7 linked regions of the Homo sapiens genome follow. The protein of the gene in region 6 interacts with the protein of the main gene of each other region in a pairwise test. Each region holds a gene or a part of one and is shown on either strand. Other genes may lie near its edges.

Evidence for each region.
Region 1: the proteins of DDX24 (region 6) and MKS1 interact in a two-hybrid assay, tested with the Homo sapiens proteins (one large-scale study listed by BioGRID and IntAct).
Region 2: the proteins of DDX24 (region 6) and TRDMT1 interact in a two-hybrid assay, tested with the Homo sapiens proteins (one large-scale study listed by BioGRID and IntAct).
Region 3: the proteins of DDX24 (region 6) and EIF3E interact in a two-hybrid assay, tested with the Homo sapiens proteins (one large-scale study listed by BioGRID and IntAct).
Region 4: the proteins of DDX24 (region 6) and SPACA9 interact in a two-hybrid assay, tested with the Homo sapiens proteins (one large-scale study listed by IntAct).
Region 5: the proteins of DDX24 (region 6) and PTPN23 interact in a two-hybrid assay, tested with the Homo sapiens proteins (one large-scale study listed by IntAct).
Region 7: the proteins of DDX24 (region 6) and POLA2 interact in a two-hybrid assay, tested with the Homo sapiens proteins (one large-scale study listed by BioGRID and IntAct).

What each region holds. Positions count from the first base shown.
Region 1 is NC_000017.11:58,212,756-58,216,255, reverse strand, and holds part of MKS1 (tectonic-like complex member MKS1), read left to right. Parts: intron 1-12; coding exon 13-168; intron 169-1,357; exon of another isoform or gene 1,358-1,417; coding exon 1,418-1,515; intron 1,516-1,868; coding exon 1,869-1,997; intron 1,998-2,386; coding exon 2,387-2,491; intron 2,492-3,165; coding exon 3,166-3,274; intron 3,275-3,500. UniProt on the Homo sapiens protein: Component of the tectonic-like complex, a complex localized at the transition zone of primary cilia and acting as a barrier that prevents diffusion of transmembrane proteins between the cilia and plasma membranes.
Region 2 is NC_000010.11:17,136,836-17,139,754, reverse strand, and holds the end of TRDMT1 (tRNA (cytosine(38)-C(5))-methyltransferase), read left to right. Parts: 3' UTR 1-553; coding exon of another isoform or gene 554-558; 3' UTR 559-2,419; downstream 2,420-2,919. UniProt on the Homo sapiens protein: Specifically methylates cytosine 38 in the anticodon loop of tRNA(Asp). Has higher activity on tRNA(Asp) modified with queuosine at position 34.
Region 3 is NC_000008.11:108,210,718-108,214,217, reverse strand, and holds part of EIF3E (eukaryotic translation initiation factor 3 subunit E), read left to right. Parts: intron 1-3,500. UniProt on the Homo sapiens protein: Component of the eukaryotic translation initiation factor 3 (eIF-3) complex, which is required for several steps in the initiation of protein synthesis.
Region 4 is NC_000009.12:132,885,398-132,888,897, reverse strand, and holds part of SPACA9 (sperm acrosome-associated protein 9), read right to left. Parts: intron 1,530-3,500; coding exon 1,327-1,529; intron 609-1,326; coding exon 287-608; 3' UTR 1-286. UniProt on the Homo sapiens protein: Microtubule inner protein (MIP) part of the dynein-decorated doublet microtubules (DMTs) of multiciliated respiratory cells and the distal singlet microtubules of monoflagellated spermatozoa.
Region 5 is NC_000003.12:47,408,521-47,412,020, reverse strand, and holds part of PTPN23 (tyrosine-protein phosphatase non-receptor type 23), read right to left. Parts: intron 3,246-3,500; coding exon 2,934-3,245; intron 2,859-2,933; coding exon 2,704-2,858; intron 2,605-2,703; coding exon 2,453-2,604; intron 2,367-2,452; coding exon 2,187-2,366; intron 2,094-2,186; coding exon 335-2,093; intron 239-334; coding exon 54-238; intron 1-53. UniProt on the Homo sapiens protein: Plays a role in sorting of endocytic ubiquitinated cargos into multivesicular bodies (MVBs) via its interaction with the ESCRT-I complex (endosomal sorting complex required for transport I), and possibly also other ESCRT complexes.
Region 6 is NC_000014.9:94,074,703-94,078,202, reverse strand, and holds part of DDX24 (ATP-dependent RNA helicase DDX24), read left to right. Parts: intron 1-3,500. UniProt on the Homo sapiens protein: ATP-dependent RNA helicase that plays a role in various aspects of RNA metabolism including pre-mRNA splicing and is thereby involved in different biological processes such as cell cycle regulation or innate immunity.
Region 7 is NC_000011.10:65,268,462-65,271,961, reverse strand, and holds part of POLA2 (DNA polymerase alpha subunit B), read right to left. Parts: intron 3,291-3,500; coding exon 3,233-3,290; intron 1-3,232. UniProt on the Homo sapiens protein: Accessory subunit of the DNA polymerase alpha complex (also known as the alpha DNA polymerase-primase complex) which plays an essential role in the initiation of DNA synthesis.

The sequences.
Region 1 (3,500 bases), on a different chromosome or scaffold from region 6:
TGGTAACCTCAGTTTGAAGTAGATCTGTACCAAAATGAAACAGCCTGTCAGAGTCCTTTGGATTATCAGTACCGTCAGGAGATCCTGAAGCTGGAGAATTCGGGTGGCAAGAAAAACCGACGAATCTTTACCTACACTGACTCTGATAGATACACCAATTTGGAGGAGGTATTGTTCTTTCTAGGGTCTCATAGCTTCCATCTTTGCTTCCTCTAGCTTTTTTGCCTCACTGAGTTCTGTGTGTTATGTCAGAGCCTAGTAAGGGGAGACAAGTAGCCTGTCTAGGAACTGCTGTGAGCTGCTGCTGCTGGCAGCCAGCCTGGAATAGAATGGGCACAGTCTACAGGTGGTGAGGCTGCTGCTCCCTTCTCTGCCTGCTAGAGGGCCTGGGGGAGCTGCCAGTATCTCTGATTATATGCTTGCAGAGTGCATACTGGGAGAAGTAACCACTGGGCTTGACTTCCTCCATGCATCATGAAAAAAGACAGGTAGTGGAGTCTGGAACAATATAGATAAAATTCATCAGGGGATTCAGCCCAAACTCTGAGTATATGGGTTTGAAGAGGAATTCAGTATAGCTATGGAAAATGGCTTATGTCCTCAATTTGCCTATGACAAAAATACCCTTGTGACCTTGTTTTACATTTTCTTCAGTCACTGCATTTCAGTTGCTTCTGTCTTCTCAGTAAGATTTTAAGCTCCTCGAGGGTAGAGCCTATTTTTTTTATTTTTGTCTATGACTCTGTAGGTCTCTGCAAGGAACAGGTATTCAATAAATGTTTTTGAAAGATTGACGTGCTTTCATTATTAGAGCTGTGGATTGATAACATTAGCTGGGCATGGTGGCATGTACCTGTAGTCCCGGCTACGTGGGAAGCTGAGGCGGGAGGATCACTTGAGCCAAGGAGTTCAAGGTTGCAGTGAGCTATGATAGCACCACTGCACTGCAGCCTGGGTGAGACCCTGTCTCTTAAAAAAATATATAAATTAAATAAAATTTGGGTTGTCTGTTTTGGAAAAGCAAATGAAAATGCAGTTAGTGCTCAGTTACCATGTGAGGATTTCCCACAAAATGCTTGTATCCCATTTGGCATTTTCTAACCACCTTGTTAACTTCAACATCTACCAAGCACACTAACCCAACTTTTTGTTGGTTTGTGCTCAGAGAATGCAGACTGATTTTAATATTAACATAAATAACTCCTTTTTAAAATCCAAAGGCAAACCATGATGTGGTAGAAATCTTCTTTGGGTTGTTTGGCTACTGCTCCCTCCGTTAGCATGTATAATTGTGAGGTGGCGGAACCTGTGGGGTTCAGGTCCTGGATGAGGTTTCAGGAGGAAGACTTCCCTTCAGGTACTTGGCTCCATGTGGCCCTGACCAGATGGCGTACACAGGGCTGCTTGCTTTTCCCAGCACTGTCAGAGAATGACCACTGCAGCCAGCGAGGTGCCTTCATTCTTGGTCGAGCGAATGGCAAATGTCAGGCGTCGCCGGCAGGACAGGCGAGGGATGTGAGTGCGGGCATGGGATGGGGGACAAGCTTTTACTTTTTATTTCCTAAAGTTGGGTAGTTTTGCATTTTTATCAGTGGTTATATATAGTATTCAAGTATTACTTTGTAATTAATTTAAAAAATAAATATAAAAATATAAAATATCTTCCTCACTCTTCATGTGGACATTTTTCCAAAGTGCCTCAGAGAGAGGGAAGGGATGTCATTTCTGTTTGTCAAATATTTTGGCTCTTAAAAAACAAAACAAAACAGTATGTCCACTAGCTCAAACTTCCCATTCTGAAGTGGCTCTCCACTGGGGTGCTCCATTGGGGTGTGCCAGGGAAGTGACCTTTCTGTGGTGTCTCCCAGGGAGGGCGGCATCCTCAAGTCACGCATCGTCACCTGGGAGCCCTCAGAAGAGTTTGTCAGGAACAACCACGTCATTAACACCCCTCTTCAGACAATGCACATCATGGCAGACCTGGGGCCCTATAAAAAGTGAGTGGCGCTTCTCACTGCCAGCTTAGAGCCTCATCCTTTTCTCCTCTCACCAGCTCTCCCCTTCCTGTTATTATCATCCTAGGTTATAGGGGAGGGAGGGACTTTTTCTTCCTTCTCTTCTTAGTTATGAGTGAAGCTTCTCACTGCCAACTCAGATCCTCATCTTCTTCTCCTCTCACCAGCTATCCCCTTCCTGTTATCATCCTGGGTTATAGGAGAGGAAGGGACTTTTTCTTCCTTTTTTTTCTTAGTTGTACTTGGAAGAAAGTTTTACCATGACAGCTCTCCCTATAGCCTCTGTTCTCTCCCCTGCAGTGGGCTCAGTATCTCTTCTTGTTTCCCTGAAGGACCATTGACCTCAACCTTGGTGTTTTCCTGATTTCTAGGCTTGGCTATAAGAAGTATGAACATGTCCTGTGTACTCTGAAGGTGGATAGCAATGGTGTGATCACAGTAAAGCCTGACTTCACGGGCCTCAAAGGACCCTACAGGTGAGGAGAGGAAGAAAGGGGTAGTGGAGACTGGCATTCCTTCCCTTGGTTGCACTTTTTGTCCCTAGTCAACTAGACTGTCAGAAAGTCCTTCATCTGTTCTAACTTTTACATTCCCAGGCAATGGTTCGTATTCTGTTCCAAGTCATAGGGCCTTAGAAAACCAGGGACTCCTTTCTCAGAAAATGTGCAACTGCACCAATTTGAAAGGGATCACTTCAGTGGTACAGTTAAATGACAGTGATTCTCTGTGCTGCTGAATGTAGGACCTGACCAGAACAGAGTGGGGTGAACTCAGCCAGGCTTTTCCTGTGGGCTGACTGTTCCTCATCTCTGTATCTTGGAAATGACAGAAATGTAAATTAGAAATTATCTGGCCCAACCTGTCCATTTTTCAGGTGAGAGAACTGGGTGGCAGGAATGTTGTGCCTTACAGTTTGACTGTAACTTCAAGCCAGAAATGGGCCCAGAACCTATACTTTCTGAGTCTAGTCTGGTGCCCTCTCTGCTTTACCCTTTTGTTTCTCTCTCCTGGTCGTCAATACAGCCACTTTTATCATCATATACTTTAGTGAGGTGTATGGCCCCTGATCGCTCATCCCTGGGCTGGGAGCTATCCCAGGGCCCATCTCTCATTATTAGAGTTGCTCCTTTCTGTGGTTTTGACCTTACAGGATTGAGACGGAGGGGGAGAAGCAGGAGCTGTGGAAATATACGATCGACAATGTTTCCCCCCACGCACAGCCGGAGGAGGAGGAGCGGGAACGGCGAGTGTTCAAGGATGTAAGCGCAAGTTCATTCCAAGTATCCAAGGGATGAGCCTCAGTGCCTGGAGCTGAGACCATTTCTGAACTTGATGTCAGCAGTTGCTCGGGAAAAGCCTTGCCCTTCATGGCCCCTTCTGACTTAGGCAGCATTGCTGACATATCAGACAGAAGTTTTTGATCATATTATAATAATAACAATAACCATTTATTTGAGCATTTACCATGTTCTGTGCTAGGTACTT
Region 2 (2,919 bases), on a different chromosome or scaffold from region 6:
ACTTCAATTAACAAATCCCCTGGGAATGATGCCCCTTTGTAAGGCATCAGCCTTGTTAAATCACTCCTCTAACCGTAAATCACATCCGTAATGCAAAGCTTCCTCTCACAAGATAAAGATGCCTGTGTGTACTGCTTCTGCGTCTATCTTCCCAATTAAAGGTACAAGAGGCAGAGTCTGAAGAGTGCCAGGTATCCCCAAACTTTGTTTTCTTTTTCTTTTTTTTCATTTTCCTTCCCAGAAGAGAACCAAACTGTTTTTTTCTTCCCCCCATCGGTGGTGACATCCTCACCTCTCTTGCTCTCCTCCCCTAATAGAACACAAAATATCATCACAAAGATGTACTTTCCCCTTTTCCTAAGATCAGATCCAATATAAGTTGTTTGCAGTTATTTACCACCTACATTTCTTCTGTCATTCATGCTGAAGTCTGAGTGCAATCAGACATTTTCCTTTGATTATCGTATGAATGGTGTCTAAATATTTAACTTCACCGCCTTGTTTGGGGAATTTTAGGGGTCACCAAGTAGAAAACTCATTTTGTCCTTTTTAGGTTGATTTGGAACAGGATGGCAGGAGGGTTCACCTATGGTAAACTCCGCTTCATTGCTTCACACCTTGGAAACCAAGCTTGGATTAATCCAATGGAGCTGCTGAAGTCCCCATTCCGGGAGCTGTTGGAGGTAGAGAAAGCTCTGTTGATTTTTTTACTAGCTTTTGGAGCCTTTAATCCTAGCAATTAGTATCTCCTCTGCTATGGCTGATCCTTATAATGATGCGAGACCCTCCAGTGCATATTTTATGTTTTCTGTAACATTTGCTTGAGTTACAATTAGGAAGCTGTGTGTGCACACGTGTGTATACATGTGCCACGAACACCCCTGTGCTCCTCCTCCAAAGCCCTATTCCCCTATTGCGTTTGTCCCTCTGGATTTGAATTTCGTTATTTTTTTCTCATTGTTTATGAAGGGATTATATTACTTAAAAAAAAAAACTTGAAAAAAGTGGAAAAGTTCTCCAAACTCTCAACAATCTGCTTTCTCAGGAAAAGCTCTGCCAAACCTCAGCAATTTAAATGTTAATGATTAACTCATAATTCTTTTTCATTCTACTCAAAGATAATTGTAGTCATTGTAATAATGAGCATGGAGAACAAATGTCTGCTTTATGTGCCTTGAGCCAAGACCACACTGCTTTCAAAAAGATCAGTTCATCACAGTAGTAGACTTGGTAATTTCCTACATGGTAATGCACTTCCCATGAAATGAGCAAAAGAATAGTTTTAAATGTACCTTGATTTCCATCATTATTTTATGTAATCCTTCATGGAAAATGAAAGAATTGGAACAATGTTATATTGCCCTGAAATTTTGCAGAAAATCACAAAACTGACATATGTAAATGTATCTTTTAAGCAATGTTACGTCCCTGAAAAAGAGAATGAATTAAGTGTCATGAAGGTTAAAAGATCGTTATATTCACAAATGTTTCCATTAATGACTAAAAACCAGATTAATTCTACAGTGTTCTGTTTTAAACTGATATGAAAATGAAAAGGGACTAAAAAAAGCACAAAAGCCAGATTGAAGCTATAACATGTAATGGGAGCTAGCATTAGGGGTGTGAGAATCTTGCCAATTTGTCCATCCTCCAACGCACCTCTGCATCTCAACCCTCTCCTCATTTTTATGACTCCCACATTGATCCAGTCCTCCAGATAAATTCAGCTGGCCTAGCAGAAATATCACATAAGGATTATTGCACTCAAGATAAAAGAACATCCCCCTATTAAAAAGATTAAATCAACATTCTTTAACCTGCCACTTAAGGCCTTCTGTCGATGTCTCTTCCTTTACCCAGCCACTTTCCTTCAAGGTCACCCTGCTGGACAAGTGGAACAACCTTTTTTTTTTTTTCTTTTTTTTTTGGCAGAGTTTCGCTCTGTCACCCAGGCTGGAGTGCAGTGGCTCTCGGCTTGCTGCAACCTCCACCTCCTGGGTTCAAGCGATTCTCCTGCCTCAGCCTCGCCTCCTGAGTAGCTGGGACTACAGGTGTGTGCCACCATGCCCGGCTAATTTTTTTGTATTTTTAGTAGAGACAGGGTTTCACCATTTTGGCTGGTCTCAAATTCCTGACCTCAAATGATCAGCCCGCCTTGGCCTCCCAAAGTGCTGGGATTACAGGTACGAGGCACTGAGCCCGGCCAGTGGAACCACTTTCTATAGTGTGCCCATACTGGGCCTTGGACATCTTTCCTAGTTTGGTACCTGCTGTTTACTTAACAGCATGCTACTGTGTATCTGTGCCATCTTGTCACACTTGTCTTTGTAATGTTGCCTAACTCTGGCTCTCCAGATTTGTACATTACGACTTTATTGTAAATCAGAGAAGGTCAATAAATTTACTTCTTTCAAATTTCCCCCATGGTCAAGGACTTCGTATGTCTTCACTAAATGCTTATTAAGCCTCTAAAACAATGGAATTTAGATAAAGCTGGTAGGAATAAAAAGTGAACATTGGTATAAAAAACAGCAGTGAAATATACTAATGTGGCAATGAGATGCTCTTCAAGAATTTGGAGAAAAATACAGAAAATAAGAGGGTAAGTAAAGTCTGTACACTTAGTATAAAATCTCCAGTCACCTCTACTAGTCCAGGTAGAAGACTGGAGAATTTTTTTCTGAACGTCTCCAGGGCAAGATGCCTTCAAAGATGGGCATTTGGGGTTCCCCAGTGAAATTGTCAGTTTGCCATTCGGTTGCTCTGTGGCAAAGCCTACCAGTTATAATCGCCACCCATGCACACAGAGCCTACCATCCATTCTGTAATGTGTTATTTTTAAATGTCAATGAACATATAAGGATCCATAGGTATTTGAGGAAAGCCTCTAGCATGAATTAGAAAGACCTAAACCAGCAA
Region 3 (3,500 bases), on a different chromosome or scaffold from region 6:
AATCCTTTCCATTTAGTTTGTATGATTTAATTACATATTTGACTTCTCCTATAGTAAACTCCTATGGCATCTTAAAATGTTGAAAGATGGAAAAATTATAGTGAATTTTAGTTGTAATTTCCTGTTTTGTCAGAAAATATTGGGAAAAAATTGTGAAATGTACATAACCTATTAGAAATAAATTGTACACATTACAGTTTGAAAAATGACTAGTGCCCTTTGGGCACAGAGGAAGTCAAACAAATGTTTAAAAACCTACTGCTTTAGTGTTTGCTTCTGAGGAATTGTGCATAAAACAAATTCTTTTTCTTTAATGCCATTTGTTTTTGCTTATCCATACTTCGCTTGCCTAATTTTAGTGGGCCGTCCGTTGAAGTGGTTGTCCAGAGTTAGAAGGATAGTATAATCATGGGATTTTTCCTATGGGAATTGAATCCTTGCCTTCACAGTTTTATTAGCACTTTACTGTAGCTTGCAGACAGAATTTTTTAAACCTGATTCTCTTACAAATTACATGAAAATTCCTAATAATGTAATTGGTTATGAAATAAAGAGGTAGGTACATCATATGTGGGGCTCCGGTGGATAGTAGTAACTGAATTCTTGCATTGTTCTTTGTTTTTAAGGTTTGTAATTAGGGCTTGTGAAAGAGGGATGTTAGTATTTTGGTTTCCCTTGTAGAATTTTCTCCATTTCTCATTAGAATGTGGTCATTTGGGTGCTTTTTGGTCCAGAACTGACTTAGCTACTACCGCTGTTGTGGGCCTTTTGAAAGCTGACCCTTTTTTTTGCATCTTTAGCACCTAACATACTAACTTTGTAGCACCTAATATGCTTTGTACAGTATAGTGTGAGTATACAATATAAATATTTGTTAAGTAAATTTCTTCTGTTATTAGTGAACTTGGCATTTTTGTCCATGATAATGCTTGTCTGCTTTGGTGTTTGCTTCCGAGGTACTATCAATAAGATTTGTTGTAGCTCTTTTCCTTTAACTCTGCAGCCATGTATTCATTATTTTCTTTCTTGGGATTTGGTTTATTATCTTTTAAGAGGAACATAGATTAAGTATGTGTTCTCCTTACTGAAGGGAGATGTGCAGCTCAAAGAAGTTAATAGAGTGGGAATGTTTCTATATACCTTTATGTGACACTACCTAAGAATTTTTCAGACTTTTCTCCGTGTAGATTTTTATTACTTCCTTGATCTCTGTAGTTTTCTGCTAGACAAAAATCTACAAAGCATTTTCAGACTAAAGTCCTAGTGGCTTTCCAGAGTCTAAAAATATTTTTTTTTCTAGTAGTAGCATTTTCTTTCACTTCAGTTCTTCAATTTTTTTTTCAATGTTTTACTAAGATGATTAAGAGTACATAGATCAATAATGTATGTTTTTCTTTTTCTTTCTTTTTTTGGGGGGAGACACAGTCCTGCACTGTTGCCTAGGCTTGGGTATAGTGGTGCGATCTCTGCTCACTGCAACCTCTGCCTCTCGCGTTCAAGAGATTCTCGTGCCTCAGCCTCCCAAGTAGCTGAGATTACAGGCATGTGCCACCACGCCCAGCTAATTTTTGTGCTTTTAGTAGAGATGGGGTTTCACCATGTTGGCCAGGCTTGTCTTGAACTCCTGGCCTCAAGTGATCTCCCTGCCTTGTTCTCCCAAAGTGCTGGGATTACAGGCGTGAGCCACTTGCGCCCAGCGTTTTTTCAAGTACTATGGTAGAATTTTCAATCTGAAAGAAATCTTAGGGATCTTCTGATCCAACAACACAGTTACTTTTCAGGTGAAGGACTTCTCAGTAGAATTTTCTGTAGTGATAGAAATGTTTTATATCTGAAAATGTGTTTCTATGTGTTCAGTACAGTATACTTCATAGATGGCTCACATTTCAAGATCTTGAAGTATGGTTTCCAAATCTCTGTGTGACAGTGGGACTTATTTTCAAATGTAATATCATATATATGAATATATGTATTTATATATGTGTATAAGCAGATCAAAGCAGAGCCCATTCACCGTGCCTATCTTACAGTTCTGTTCAGCTTCTCTCCTGACTACTAAGACACCTCTTTGGAACACAGTTTTACAAAACACTGACTCAGAACAACTGCATTGTTTTGTAGCCAGGAAATTTAAAGCTCAAGGACATTAAGCTAGGTCTTGATAGAGCCTGTACTAAAGGTATCTGACATTCATTGTACTGTACCTCACTGTAAGTTCTTTTATATTGTGAACAATTTATATTTTTAGAAATGTCAGGTTTAGATTAATTTGTCATTTAGTTTATCAGTTGAGCCAGAGGATAAAGATGAAAACCCTAAGTCACTTTAACTCTGTGTTTCAGAATCTTTGTAGAGTTTGTTTTATAAACTCCCTATAGCCACCCTAAACCATTGAATCAGATTTATTGAGTAGGCTATGCTATGATTTGCAGCAGGGCTGCTGTGCTGTATCTTGAGGGTGGTTATTCCGAAGCACAGCCAGAATCCAAAACCACTGCATTAGGTAACCAGTTTTTTAGGCGTGTAATTACAGCCTGCTAAAGTAATGGAGTGAAAAATCAGTAATTTAATACCTTTATTATATAATGAATTAAGAAGATAAGCTTCTTCGTGTTTCTAAGGATGCTTTAGTGGGTTAGAAAGACAAAAGAAACTACCATCAGAGTGAACAGACAACCTACAGAATAGGAGAAAATTTTTAGCATCTACCCATCTGACAAAGGGCTAATATCCAGAATCTACAAAGTACCTAAACAAATTTACAAGAAAAAAACAACCCCATCAAAAAGTGGGCAAAGGATATGAACAGATACTTCTGAAAAGAAGACATTTATGCAGCCAACAGACATATGAAAAAATGCTCATCATCACTGGCCATCAGAGAAATGCAAATCAAAACCACAATGAGATACCATCTCACACCAGTTAGAATGGCGATCATTAAAAAGTCAGGAAACAACAGGTGCTGGAGAGGATGTGGAGAAATAGGAACACTTTTACACTGTTGGTGGGACTGTAAACTAGTTCAACCATTGTGGAAGACAGTGTGGTGATTCCTCAAGGATCTAGAACTAGAAATACCATTTGACCCAGCCATCCCATTACTGGACATATACCCAAAGGATAATAAATCATGCTGCTATAAAGACACGTGCACACATATGTTTATTGAGGCACTATTCACAATAGCAAAGACTTGGAACCGACCCAAATGTTCATCAATGATAGACTGGATTAAGAAAATGTGACACATATACACCATGGAATACTATGCAGCCATAAAAAATGATGAGTTCATGTCCTTTGTAGGGACATGGATGAAGCTAGAAACCATCATTCTGAGCAAACTATCACAAGGACAGAAAACCAAACACCGCATGTTCTCACTCATAGGTGGGAATTGAACAATGAGAACACTTGGACACAGGGTGGGGAACATCACACACCGGGGCCTGTCGTGGGGTGGGGGGAGTGGGGAGGGATAGCATTAGGAGATATAC
Region 4 (3,500 bases), on a different chromosome or scaffold from region 6:
TACTTGGGAGGCTGAGGCAGGAGAATGGCGTGAACCTGGGAGGCGGAGGTTGCAGTGAGCCGAGGTTGCGCCACCGCACTCCAGCCTGGGCGACAGAGCGAGACTCCGTCTCAAAAAAAAAAGAAGTTAAAGCAAGAAGAGAGAGAGGAAGTCTCAGTAATATATTGGCTGATTCCCTTGGGGTTAGTAAGTGGCAGGGTCCATGGGTACCAGTGAAAAAAGGACCAACCAGTAAAATCCAAATTAAACAGCAAAGCTCTCCGCCGACGGAGCTCCTGGCTCTGAGTTACAATTTCCCACCAGGAGGCCTCCAGGGTGGTTTTGAACATCCCCTGGGTTTGAGGCTGGCTTTTGTGAGCTGTCTACACTTGTGTTTAGTGGCCCTGGGCTGGGTCCCTATGGCCTGGGCAGGACGAGCGGCTCCCCTGGTGCTCTCCTGGTGCGCCTGGGGCTCACTCACGTGCTGCAGCACCTTGCGCGGCAACTTCTCGGAGTGGGCGATCCATTCTTTCATTAAGTCTAGGATGAGGGGGATGAGGCTGACCACGCCGCCGTAGTGGTTCCGGGCCTCGTCACAGCTGAGGTGGTTCACCACATCATGAGGGTATCTGCAGGACGGCAGGGGGCCAGGTGAACCCATGCTCCCGGGACTTGCCATGCCGTGGCAAGCAGCTGCCACACCTCAGGCACAGCAGAGTCACCTGGGGAGGCTTTAGAACTGGACACACAGCACGCTGAGGCGCTCTGTCCCCAGAGATTCTGGCAGACCAGGCCTGGGGTGCCACAAGCCCCAGGTAATTCTGGTGTGAAAGACAGGAGATGCAAACCACTGCCCCATGGTCCGTAGAAACCTGGGTTAGGGGTGAGGAACTGGCTGGCTCATCCCTCTGGCTCTTCTCACCCTGGTATCTACAGAGCTTCCCCAGGCTCTGGCCCACTGTGCTGCAGGCTCCCGGGCTGTCAGGATGAGGAGCCCTCAGTGCCAGTGCTGCTGCCCCTGGGAGGCGGCTCTGGTGTCCACTTCTTTGCATGTCAGTGAGGATCTCTGTGGGCTTCTGGGGGCAACTGCTCTGGGCTCTACACCCCCTTCTCCACCTGCCTGGTGCTAACACCCGTGAGACACCTGGTGTCCTGCCATGTCTACGATGGTTGTAAAGAAAAGGTTTTGTTGAATCCGAGTCATTCCAATAAATGAGTGGAGACTGGGATTTCCTGCCCGGGGTGGTCTAATAGGAGCACCATGATCCAGGCAACAGGAAAGAAGCAGGACAGAGGCCTCCCCACAGGCACACACGGGGCCTCAAGAGCAGCATCAGAGGGACTTACTTTGCTCTGAGGCTGCTTAAGTCGTTGCTTTGGCTAACGAGGGTTTTGCATTTCTCCAGGAGGTTGTTGGTGACTGGGGTGCCAGAGTGCACGGCCTCAAAGTGCTGGCAGAGCTTATTCAGCTCTGAACAGATGTCCAGGAACATGAGCAGAACCCGCCGGTCTGTGGAGCTGTTGCAGTAGTGTTCCATGTAGCTCTGCACCTGCAAGGGCCGCCGCCACATGAGCTGGGGACATGCCAACCCGGGTCCTGGCTGGCTTATGGTGCAAATGTCCAGAAGCACCCACCCTACTCCCTCCCACCCTACATGACTCATGGGGGAGACGCAAGTAACGCTTAAGCATTTTAAGGTACAGACCACTCTATATAGTGGTATCTCTCTCTCTATAGATGGATGGATGGATGGATGGATGGATGGATGGATGGATGGATAGATATGATATGAAATTAATGGATCGGTTGGGCACAGTGGCTCACACGTGTAATCCCCGCACTTTGGGAGGCTGAGGTGGGCGGGGATCACTTGAGGTCAGGAGTTCGAGACCAGCCTGGTCAACATGGTGAAACCCCATCTCTACTAGGAAAAAAAAAATTAGCCAGGCGTGGTGGCACGTGCCTGTAATCCCAGCTACTCGGGAGGCTGAGGCAGGAAAACCACTTGAACCCGGGAGGAGGAGGCTGCAGTGAGCCGAGATCATGCCACTGCACTCCAGCCTGGGTAACAGAGCAAGATGCCATCTCAAAAACAAAAAATTAATTAAATTAAATGGACGGATGGATGGGTAGATAGATAGATGGATATAAAATCAAGTGTTCCAGGCACCATGCAAAATGCTTTACGGGCCTGCTCTCGCCTGTCTTCATCTAAACCCTACACACTGAGCAGGTACCTTTTTAAATTCCCATTTTACAGATCAGTACCATGACATGAACACTGGAGGTTTGCAGAGGTGAAATAACCCGCCCAGGGCACCAGTGGCTTAGTTGGGTGTCCCCAGCTCAGTGGCTCCGTGCCCTACCCCTCACCTGTCCCCTGCCACCTGAACCAACCACCGCCTAAAGCAAAAGGGGGCTGCCCCCTGACTTAATGCCACAGTGCCTGTCATCCCACTTCTAGAGGGTTCATTGTGAGAAATTCCAGCGTGGGCCACCCATACTGAGAGGGAAACAGCAGGGACTGGAATCCTTTGGGCTTCAGCCGTACTGTGTTCACAAGGTGGAGAAGGAGGGGCAGGCCAGTAAGTGGAGCTTATGGGGTTACCCAGTGACTGCATCTGAGGTTGGGCCAGAGCCGGAGGTCTGATCTCGAGCTAGGGAGGAATTGGCTGTGGTCCAGGCCAGATGAACAGACCCATTTCGTAGTCAGATGGTTCTACTCTCCACAATCTGATGACAGATGCAGGTATCACCTCCTCCAGCACCCACAAAGGTCTACATCTAAATCAGGGTTTTCTTGCTGTAACCGTTTGTCTTTTTGTTGCTAGGGGATGTTTCCCCAAACAATCTGAAGTGGTTCCTTCCCAAGGACTGCCATGCACAAGCAGCTTCGTAAGGGGGAGAGGCTCTTCACACTCATACCCACAAAGGCACCTGTAGGGGTCGAGGAGGAGGAACCTGCCCCATGGTGTAACTACAACAGAGCATTGCGGGGGTGGGGGGCGGTGTGCAGGGAACCTTTGGACACTTCTGGTTCAGGGAGGGCAGGGGAGGGGTGAGGCAACTCAGAACACAAGGCCACTGTTTACCAAGAGCCTTCGGCTGAACCTAAGGCAAGAAGGCCACTCCCTTATGCATGGATGTAGATTCTGGGAAGGGACACTTGTTGACTTTTGAAGCTTCTGGAGGATGGACTAAAAAGGATGTAGGCAGTTTCTTTTCTTTTTTCCCCCGAAGTCCAGGTTTACAGAAGAGGAAGTTTATTTTCCAATAGCTCAGGGGCTGCATGCGTGGGCAAATATGGCTAAATTGGCTAAATGTCACAAGTCGGTGAATCTGGGTGAGGGTTATATGGGTGCTCCTTTTCTGTACATTTAACTTTTTTTTTTTTTTTTTTTTTTTGAGACAGGGTCTTGCTGTGTCACCCAGGCTGGAGTGCAGTGGTGCGATCTCGGCTCACTGCAGCTTCTGCCTCCAGGGTTCATGTGATTCTCATGCCTCAGCCTCCCGAGTCACT
Region 5 (3,500 bases), on a different chromosome or scaffold from region 6:
AAGGACTGGACAGCACTTAGACCCCCAACCACCATCCAGAGCAGTGGACTCACAACTCAGGCCAAGTGGGGAAGTGCAGGTGCACAAGAGAGCGCTTGAGGCTCTGGTCTCGGAACTGCAGGCTCAGCACGCGCTCCACATGGGTTTCGGTGCTGCGGACGCTGCTCAATGCCAGGCTCAGGGCACCGTGCACCATGGGCTGGCCCCTCTCGGTGGGGAAGTAGCGTGCCACTTTTTGCTGAGGGACAGATAAGCCAAGACAGACCTGGTTTTCCAGGATCCCCTGCCCTGCCACCCCACACTGCCCTCGTGGGCACCCACCCCCTCTTCTCACCTTCTCCATCTCAGCCTCAGAAACCAGCATGACAATGACTGACACTTTCTGCTCATGGACCATGAGCCAGAAGTCAGCAGCTGTGCCAGGCAGTGGGGCCTGGGTTGCCACTAGCGGGGGGCAGTATGGGGAGAGCCCCTCCACGCAGCTGGCATTGATGTAGTCATCCTTGCCTGAGCGCAGCACCACACGGTTACTGTCATAGGGCATGACATCCTGGTGCCGGTTCTTCAGTGAGTAGCAGCGGGCAATGGCGATGGAACGGCCTCGGGCATCATGTTCCTGCGCATCTTGCAGCTCTCGCCAGACAGTGTCCAGAGCTCCCACATCCCCCAGCTGACCCCGAAAGGCCTCCAGCTCCTGCTGCAACTGCCGCAGCCTCTCAGGATGCTCATAGGGGTCCCGCTCAATCAGCCGCAGGGCCTGCGGCCGACGACCCTCAGCTGCATCCACCTTGGTGGGCTGCAGCAGGGGCTGCCCACCCCCAGGAGACTGAGTGCCGCCATGCTGGCTCTCCGGGCTGGAGGAGAGCAGGTCTGCAGCTGCGGCGCCTCGGCGCAGGCAAGGGGGTGGTTCTGCTGCTGGGGGGCGAGGGGGTACCGGACCAGGCCCTGGAGATGGGGCAGGTGAAGGCACCAGGTGGGGACTAGGGGTGGACTGGCCAGCAGACGAGGGCCCTCGAATGGTAAGAGGGGCTGCCTGGGGGCCCATGGGTCTGGTAGAAGGGGCAGGACCATATGCCAGTGGGGGATGGGGAGGCTGAGGGGGCCCAGGGCTGGGGAAAGGCAGAGCCCCTGAGTGGGCTGGCAGAGGGTCTTGAGCGGGACCTGGGTAGAGCTGGGTGTGTAGGGGGGGTGGCGGCTGCCCCAGGACCCCAGGCTGAGGGGCATAGGGGTAGGGGGATTGTGGGGGTAGGAGTCCTGGGGCCTGGGGTGGGAAGAGATGTGGATGCTGGAGTGGAAGGGGCTGCTGTGGGGGCTGAGGCCCAAACGCTTGTGAAGGATGGGGCTGAGGATGGGGCTGGGGCTGGGGCCCAATCCTTGGGGCTGGAAAACCTGCGGGGATCCCAGAAGAGAAGTGGTGCTGTGCCGGGATGGGTTGCTTAGCCCCTGCAGGGTAGGTGTAAGGCGTGGGCAGTGGCTGCGGTGGGGGCACAGGGAAGCAGGGCGGGGGAGGAGCAGGGGTGGGGTTTGGCCGTGGGGCTGTGTGGCTGGGGATGGGCGCCTGGATGCTATCTACTGTGGTGGTGGCTGGCCGAACCGCCATGGCCAACTCGGGGCCTGAGAATTGAGGAGGTGGGGCCGAGGGGAGACCTGCAACTGGTGGGGCCGGCCCTACCCCCACATAGGGACTGCTCACCACGCCATGCTGTGGGGAGGATCGGGGCACAAGGCCCAGCTCCGGTGTGTAGGCAGGGGCTGGGTAGAGGGCAGGCCCAGGTGCTACGGGCATTGCATGGGGCCCTGGGGCCCTGGGCTGTATCAGCTGGGTGGGGCCCGAGTAGGTACCAGGGGGCAAGGGGCCTGAGAGATAGTGGGGTCCTGGGCCTGTGGAGCTGGGGAAGGGGCTGGGAGGAAAGTGGAGCGGGGTGGCACTTCCCAGGAAGGTGTCAGGCAGTCGTGGGCCAGCCACCATGTCAGGGGGGAGGCTGCGCAGCTCCTCAGGGGGGTCTCCTGCTTCCACTGCCTCACTCTCCTCCCTGCGGGGCAGCAGCGGCTTTGGGGCTGTGGGCCGTGGCGGCGGCTTCTTCTTCAGCTCCCTGTGCGACAGGCAAGGAAAAAGTGGGGCCAGGCTCCCATCACCCCAGCCTGTCTGGACCCGAGCCGCACCACAGCCCCAGGGCCACACAAACCTGTCCAGGAGCTGCTGGCGGGCAGCCTCGCGGGCCTGGCAGGTGGACTGCGTGCGCTCCAGCAGAGCAGCCACCTTGCTCTCCAGATCTGCGTAGAAGTCCCTGCCCTCCTGCGACTTCTTCATCAGGTCCTCATAGGCTTCATACGAGGCCACCAGGGTCTGCAGCGTGGAGTTCCACCTGGTGGGCAGAAGGGCCAGCTCCAGGTGAACCATGGGGCTGGGCTCCAGGTGGCTCCGGGAAAGAGCAGAGGACTGGGCACTGACTTTTGGTCCAAGTCGCTGAGTACCCGCCGCACGGCTGCGTACTGCACGTTGGCCTCTGTCAGTGCACAGAGGACACGGTCCTGGGCGGCCAGGTTCTGCTCCAGGTACACCTTCAGCTGGTCATACTTTTTCAGCTGCTCCTCGAACAACTTCTGAGGAAGGGGTGGGGGCCAGGGACGGACACTCAGGGCCTCGACTCCTAAGGGTGGGGCCCGGAGCCAGAGCCCCTCTACCCTGCTCACCCAGCCCACCTTCATCTCTGAGTGGTCTGTGGTGACCAGCGAGGCAGTGATGTCATCTTTCTGGATAAGCTCACGCAGCTGCTGCTCCAGGGACACGCGCTGGTCCCGCATCTCCTGCACCTTAGCCAGGATGCGCTTTAGGTTTTGCAGCACGGCCTTGTCCTCTGTGGGCAGCAGTGGTCAGTGAGGCCAGAGAAACCCCCAGCTCGAGTCTCCCAATGGGGTCTGGTGGGGCTCACCTGGGGAGAGGGCCGGTGTGGGCAGGGCAGCCCGGACCTGGTCAAGCGGCCCGCTGAGCAGGCGCAGGTTGCCGACGTGCAGGTTCATGGCACGGTGCAGCTCACTGTTGGTGAAGGAGGCCTTCTCATGGACTTCCATGTACTTGGCCCATTCTCGCCTCACCTCTGCCAGCTCAGCCTTGGAGGTGATGGAGATGGCCCCTGCCTGGCCCACCGCCTCCTGAAACTTCTGCTCTAGCAGCTCATCCTCCTCCAACAGATCTCTGATGTCCTTCAGGGAAGCCTCCACATCCGTGAACACACCTGACAGCACTGGGGTTGTGGATTGTACAGGCAGCCCCTGAGGCAGGCTGACCGGGCACCCATGGGCCCCTCCCCCAAGAGACAGAACCGCCCCCTCAGGTCAGGGCTTAAGTGAGGCCCAGCGCACACTGAGCAGGGTGCAAGAGGTATGCTGATTCAGAGGAGTGGGTGTGGATGCCCAAGCCAGGGCCTAGAGGGGTGCAGCCTCCATCCTCAGTGACCAGGGACACGGAGGAGGCCACAGCAGATGACCTCCACACTCCC
Region 6 (3,500 bases):
CTTACATATAACCTATATAGGCACATCCTCCTGTATATTTTAAATCATCTCTCGATTACTTATAATATCTCATACAACATAGGTCTTATGTAAATTGTTACACCGTATTGTTTAGGGAATAATGACAAGAAAAGTCTGTACAGTGTTTAGTACAGATACAGTTTTTTTTTTTTTACCCCCCCGAATATTGTCGATCCACAGATGCAGAACCCACGGTTACAGAAGGGTGACTGTATAATGTGAAACACATAAGTAATTTAAAATTTACTAGGAGTCACATTTTTTAAAAGTTAAAAACTAGTGAGATATTTTATGTTCTTTTTTTTTTTTTTACTAAATTTTCAAAATCTGGTGTGTTTTAAACTTGCAGCACATGTCATTTTAGAGTAACTACATTTTAAGTGTTCAGTAGACACGTGCTTTGGGTTTCTGGAACAGTGGTCAGGAAACTCAGGATGATGTTCTGTGGCAGTCATATAGATGGAAGAGTGAGGAACTACAGGAAAGGGGAATGGAGATAATAACTTAGAACATTTACTGAGCATTTAAGATGTGTCATGCACTGTGTTAAGTGCTTTATGTTGATGAAATCGGTTGTCACAACCACCCTGGGGTAAGTACCATTATTCCCATGTTACAGATGAGAAAACTCAGCCTCACAGAGCATAGACAGCTTCCCTAAAATTACACAACTGAAATGGTAGTGTATGGATTCCAGGCTAGTTCTGTGTGTTGTTAAGCATTCTGCTACACTGCTTTGGTATGTGCAGCAGAGTCCTGGAAGTAAGTCCGTGGAAGGCAGAAACAAGGTTTATATGAGCCGTTGTGGCCAGAGATTGACATTTGGATGTATACCACAGTTCCTGTCAGGTTGTGAATCTACAAGTCCAGAATTCAAAACGACTTGGATAAGTCATCCATCTGGGGCTGTGAACAGACCACTGCCCATGCAATAATAAATAGACCCTTAATGTGGGGATTAGGGGCATTGGTCCCCTGTGCAGTCGAAAATCCATGTATAATTTTGAACTCCCCCCAAACTTAAACGCTAATAGCCTATTATTGGCTGGATGCCTTACAGATAACATAAGCAGTCTATTAGCACATATTTTGTATTATATACTTTATTCTTACAGTAACATAAGCTAGAGAAAAAATGTTATTAAGAAAATTGTAAGGAACAGAAAATATATTTACTATTCATTAAATGGAAGTGGATCATCATAAATGTGTTCATCTTCATCTTGACTTTCAGTAGGCTGAGTAGAAAGAGGAGGGGTTGGTCTTGCTGTCTCAGGGTGGCTGAGGTGGAAGAAATTCTGTGTATAAGTGGACCCCTACCTTCAAATTTGTGTTAAAGGGTCAACTGTATATCCATTACCCCCAAAAAGATACCCTGGGTTTTTTTTGTTGTCCCTCCCTCCCTCCCTCAGTTCTTGTTCCTCCTCAGGCAACCACTGATAGGCTTTCTATCACTATAGATTAATTTGCATTTTCTTGCTTTCTTTTTTTTTTTTTTTTTGAGACGGAGTCTCGCTCTGTCACCCAGGCTGGAGTGCAGTGGCCCAATCTCGGCTCACTGCAACCTCCGCCTCCTGGGTTCAAGTGATTCTCCTGCCTCAGCTTCCCGAATAGCTGGGATTACAGGCACTTGCCACCACATCTGGCTAATTTTTGTATTTTTAGCAGAGACGGGGTTTCACTATGTTGGTCAGGCTGGTCGCAAACTCCTGCCCTCATGACCTGCCTGCTTCGGCCTCCCAAAGTGCTGGGATTACAGGTGTGAGCCACTGTCCCCGGCCTAATTTGCGTTTTCTAGAATTTTATATAATGAAATCATATAATATGTACTGGAGGGGGTGGTATCTGAGTCTTTGACTCAGCATAATTTGAGATTACGCCATGTTATTACAATTACTAGCAGTTCATTCCTTTTTAGTGATGAATAGTATTCCAATGTGTGGGTAGAGCAGTTTGTTCATCTATTGATGGACATTTGTGCTTTTTCTTGTTTTTGGCTATTACAAATATAGTTATTGTAAATACTATTGTACCAGTCTTTGTATGGATATGTGCTTTAATTTCTATTGGATAAATACCTAGGTGTGGAATGGCTAGGTCTTGTGGTAAATGTAACTTTTAAAGAGTTTTCCAAAGTGATTATACCATTTTACGTTGTCACTAGGTGGTATGAGTTCAAGTTGGTCCATATTCTTGTCAATAACTAGGTATGCTCAGTCTTTAATTTTATTTTAGACTTTTAAAATTTTACTATTATTTCCTTGTCATTTGAATTTGCATTTCCCTAGTGACTAGCAATGTAGAGCATTTTAGCATATGCTTATTTGTCTGTTTGATTATTTTGCCCATTTTTAAAATAGGGATGTTCTGTTGTAGAGTTTTGGGAGTTCATTGTGTATTCTAGATACATGTCCTTTATCAGATGTGAGATTTGCAAATTTTTCTCCCAGTTTGTGGCTTATCTTTTCGTTCTCTTAACAGTGTTTTTCAAAGAGCAGAAAGTCTTTATTTTGATGAAATCCAAATTAGCCTTGTCTTTTATGAATTTATGCTTTTGGTGCCGTTGGTGTTTTATCTAAGAACCTTTTGCCTAATTCAAGATCACAAAGATTTCTCCTGTGTTTTGTTCTAGAAGTGTTAATAGTCTTAGGTTTTATGTTTTGGTCTCTGATCCTTATTGAGTTAACTTTTATTTAGAGTGAGAAGTATGGATCAAAGTTTGTGGGTTTTTCTGCATATGGCTAATTATTTCAGCACCATTTGTAGAAAAACTATTCTTTCTCCACTGAGTTGACTTTGCATCTTTGTTGAAAGTCTGTGACCATATAGGTGTGGGTCTTTCTCTGGAGTCTTTTTGTTTTCCATTGATCTGTTTGTCTAGTCTTTATGTCAGTTTCTTATTCTCTTGGTTATAATAGCTTTATAATAAGTCTTAAAATCAGGTAGTATGAGTCCTCTAACTTTGTTCTTTTTAAAAGTTATTTTGACTGTTGTAGGCCTTTGCCCTTCCATATGGATTTTAGAATCCGTTATATCAGTTTCTACAAAAAAAGTAAGCTGATATCTGGATTGGGATTCTGTTGATTACAGAGCAAATTGAGGATAGATGACGTCTTAACAATATTTAATTTTCCAGTCTATGAATATGGTATCTCTCCATTTCTTTAGATCTTTAACTTTTCTTAGCAATGTTTTAAAATTTTCAGTATATAGATTTTTCACATCTTATGTTAGATTTATCCTTAAGCATTTTATATTTTTGATTCTATTGTAAATGGTAATTTAAAATTTTTTATTTCCGATTGTTTGTCGCCAATAAGTAGAAATATGATGGATTTTTGTATATTGATCTTGTGTCCTGCAACTTAGTTCCACCAAGTAGTTTTCTGAGGATTCCATGGTATTTTCTGCAAAGATGATCATTATCCAGTCTTGGATGCCTTTTGTTTTTCTTGTTGTATTGCAGTGGCTAACACCTT
Region 7 (3,500 bases), on a different chromosome or scaffold from region 6:
TGATAAGTACTGTTCTAAGCATTTTACGTATCTCTAGCCTGGACATATTGTTTGCTCAACATTTCACTCCAACTCATTTAGCGTGGAATTCACAGTCACAAACTTTTTTTTTTTTTTTTTTTTCAGACGGAGTCTGGTTCTGTCATCCAGCCTGGAGGGCAGTGGTGTAATCTTGGCTCACTGCAACTTCCACCTCCCGGGTTCAAGCGATTCTCCTGCCTCAGCCTCCTGAGTGGCTGGGATTATAGGCACCACCACCATGCCCAGCTAATTTTTTGAGTAGAGATGGAGTTTCGCTGGTCTCGAACTCCTGACCTCAAGTGATCCACCTGCCTCAGCCTCCCGAAGTGCTGGGATTACAGGTGTGAGCCACTGCACTCGGCCTCACAGTCACAAACTTTGATTCACAATTTAGTCTCCTAAGTATTTCCATAGCAGGAATGGGGTATCCTAAATATGGGATTTCAGTCATTGGAAGGGTATCTACTTCAATAGTAAAGTAAACAAATTTGCACCTGGCTTACGCATCAGTCTACTGACAGCTGGGTTACCATGAGTCAGACTCCGGAATATGATCAATTCTGGATACACAGACAAATTACATAAAATTCTGGATCTGTGAAGCTGTTAACCAGATAAAACCGTGGTGGTCCCATTGGTATTGCAATTGAGAGAGCCAACCACACTCCCTTATTCAGAGATCTTTCAACAACTATTAACATGCCAGGGTGCTGGGAAAACAGCAGCAAGTAAAAACAAAGTCTCTATTCTCAAGGAGCTTCCATCTAATGGAGGGAAGGCCGACTAAAACAAAAAAGTAAGTATATAACATGTTTGGTGGTAATAAAGCAAGAGAATAATAAGGAGAAAAATAAAGCAAGAAAATAAAACAGAAGAAGGGCTTTGTTCTTTTAGGCAGGCTTGTTCCCTGACAAGGAGACATAGGAAATGAACCCATATTTGGCACGGCAGAAGCAGAGAGCAAAGGGGAGCAGGGAAAGAGGACAGAAGGAGGAGGGGGCCAGCTCCTACAGAACTTCACATATGCTGGTTCAAACTTTGCATATCAGGAGGAAAGACGAAAAGCCAGTGGGAGAGATGTGAGCAAGAAAACCTGACCTTTTGCTGGAAAGGAGCACTCTGGCTGCTGGGTGGAGAGGTGGTTAGAGGTGGATATGGCAGAAAGAAGCCAATGGACTAGTTAGGAGGCTGTCCCAATCATTCAGGAGACAATGATGCTGTGGACCTGGTGGTAGCAGTGGAAATGGTGAGAGGTGGCCAGATCCTGGAGAGGGATGACAGGACTGGTAGCTAAGTTGGATGTGGGGTGTGAGAGAAAAAGGATTTAAGGAGGTCTCCAAGGTTCTTGGCCTGAGTCAATGGAAGAACGGAGGTGTCCTTCACTGGGATATGGACTCAGAAAACCACTTTAGGAGGAAAATCAAATGAGTTATAGTCTCTCCAATTTTAAGAAACTCTAACAAACACCTAATTATTTCTTTTAATATTATATGCACCTGGTTTTGTGTTAGCAACTTCATGGGGCACATTTTTGGCCCTCTTACTCTCCACAGGCATATCTAAACTATTTACCTTCTTTCTTCCTGAGACAGGGTCTCACTTTGTCATCCAGGCTGTAGAGCAGCGGCATGATCTCTGGTCACTGATCCTCCTGCCTTGGTCTCCCGGAGTGCTGGGATTACAGGCATGAGCCACTGCACCCAGCCCTTACCTTCTTTCTTATGATGTAATTTACTTTGAATAATTAAGGCTCCCTCCATGTTTATGAATTTCTACAAATTTATTTAGTTAGTATAAAGAATAATTACTGGGCTGGGCACGGTGGCTCACATCTGTAATCCCAGCACTTTGGAGGCCGAGGCAGGTGGATCACCGCAGGTGAGGAGTACGAGACCAGCCTGGCTGACATGGTGAAACCCCGTCTCTACTAAAAATACAAAAATTAGCTGGCCGTAGTGGCGCATGCCTGTAATCCCAGCTACTCAGGAGGCTGAGGCAGAATTGCTTGAACCCGGGAGGCGGAGGTTGCAGTGACCCGAGATCGTGCCATTGCACTCCAGCCTGGGCAACAAGAGGAAAACTCCATCTCAAAACAACAACAACAACAACAAAAAAGAATAATTACTATTACTGAATACATTGCATAGGGCAATGTAAATTACCTCTTTCTTATGATGTAGTTTACTTTGAATAATTAAGGCTCACTCCATGTTTATGAATGTCTACAAACTTATTTAGTTAGTATAAAGAATAGTTACCATTACTGAATACATTGCATAGGGCCTGATACTTTACCTATTTATTTCCTCTTCAAGCCCTCCAAGATGGGGGATATTGTGCACTGGCTGTCAGCTTCTTGAGGGCAGAGCCCATCCATGTCTGTTTCATTCACCATTGTTTACTCAATGTCTAGTGCAGTACATAGTTGTTGTTGTTGTTTTTTTTTTTTTTTTTGAGACGGAGTCTCGCTCTGTCGCCCAGGCTGGAGTGCAGTAGCGCGATCTCGGCTCACTGCAAGCTCTGCCTCCCAGGTTCCCGCCATTCTCCTGCCTCAGCCTCCCAAGTAGCTGGGACTACAGGCGCCCACCACCACGCCCGGCTAATTTCTTTTTTTGTATTTATGGTAGAGACAGAGTTTCACCATGTTAACCAGGATGGTCTCGATCTCCTGACCTCGTGATCCGCCTGCCTCAGCCTCCCAAAGTGCTGGGATTACAGGCATGAGCCACTGCGCCTGGCCACATAGTTGTTGCTGGATAACTGAATGAATGAATCCTGATATTATGGATAAGGAAACTGTCTCAGAGAGATAAAACAACTCACTCCAGGTCACCTAGGTCTTCTGACTCAGACTTTGAAGGCAATGCTTTTCCACTACCCTACTTGACCTTTCACACTGGGATCCAACACAGAACTGAATTATTCAATTATAGTATAAAACTATGAAACTATTCAAAAAGGGCAATTATGGAGAAATTATGTTTATAGAAATGTTTTATGTTGTGCTGAGAAAAGCAGGATAACTATATGTTTATAAGGACTGCCATTATGTAAAACATTTAGACATATGATCAGAAAGGAAGATGTATAAGTGGAAATATAGTAGGAAATGCATGAGAGTGGTTGATTTTTTCCCTCAGATCTTCAAATGTTGTGAAACTATTTTAAAATGTTACTTGTAAAATGCAATGTCCAAACACTGTTTACTTACCTTTGAAGGTGTGGTGTAAGAGTTCAAGAGGATTTCCTCTTCTTCTTCCACTTCAATTCTAAGAACACTGGTTAAGAAAAACAATAATGGCTGGGCACGGTAGCTCATGCCTGTAATCCCAGCACTTTGGGAGGCCGAGATGGGCGGATCACGAGATCAGGAGACAGAGACCATCCTGGCTAACACAGTGAAACCCCGTCTCTACTAAAAAAAATACAAAAAATTAGCCGGGCGCCTGTAGTCCCAGCTACTCGGGAGGCTGAGGCAG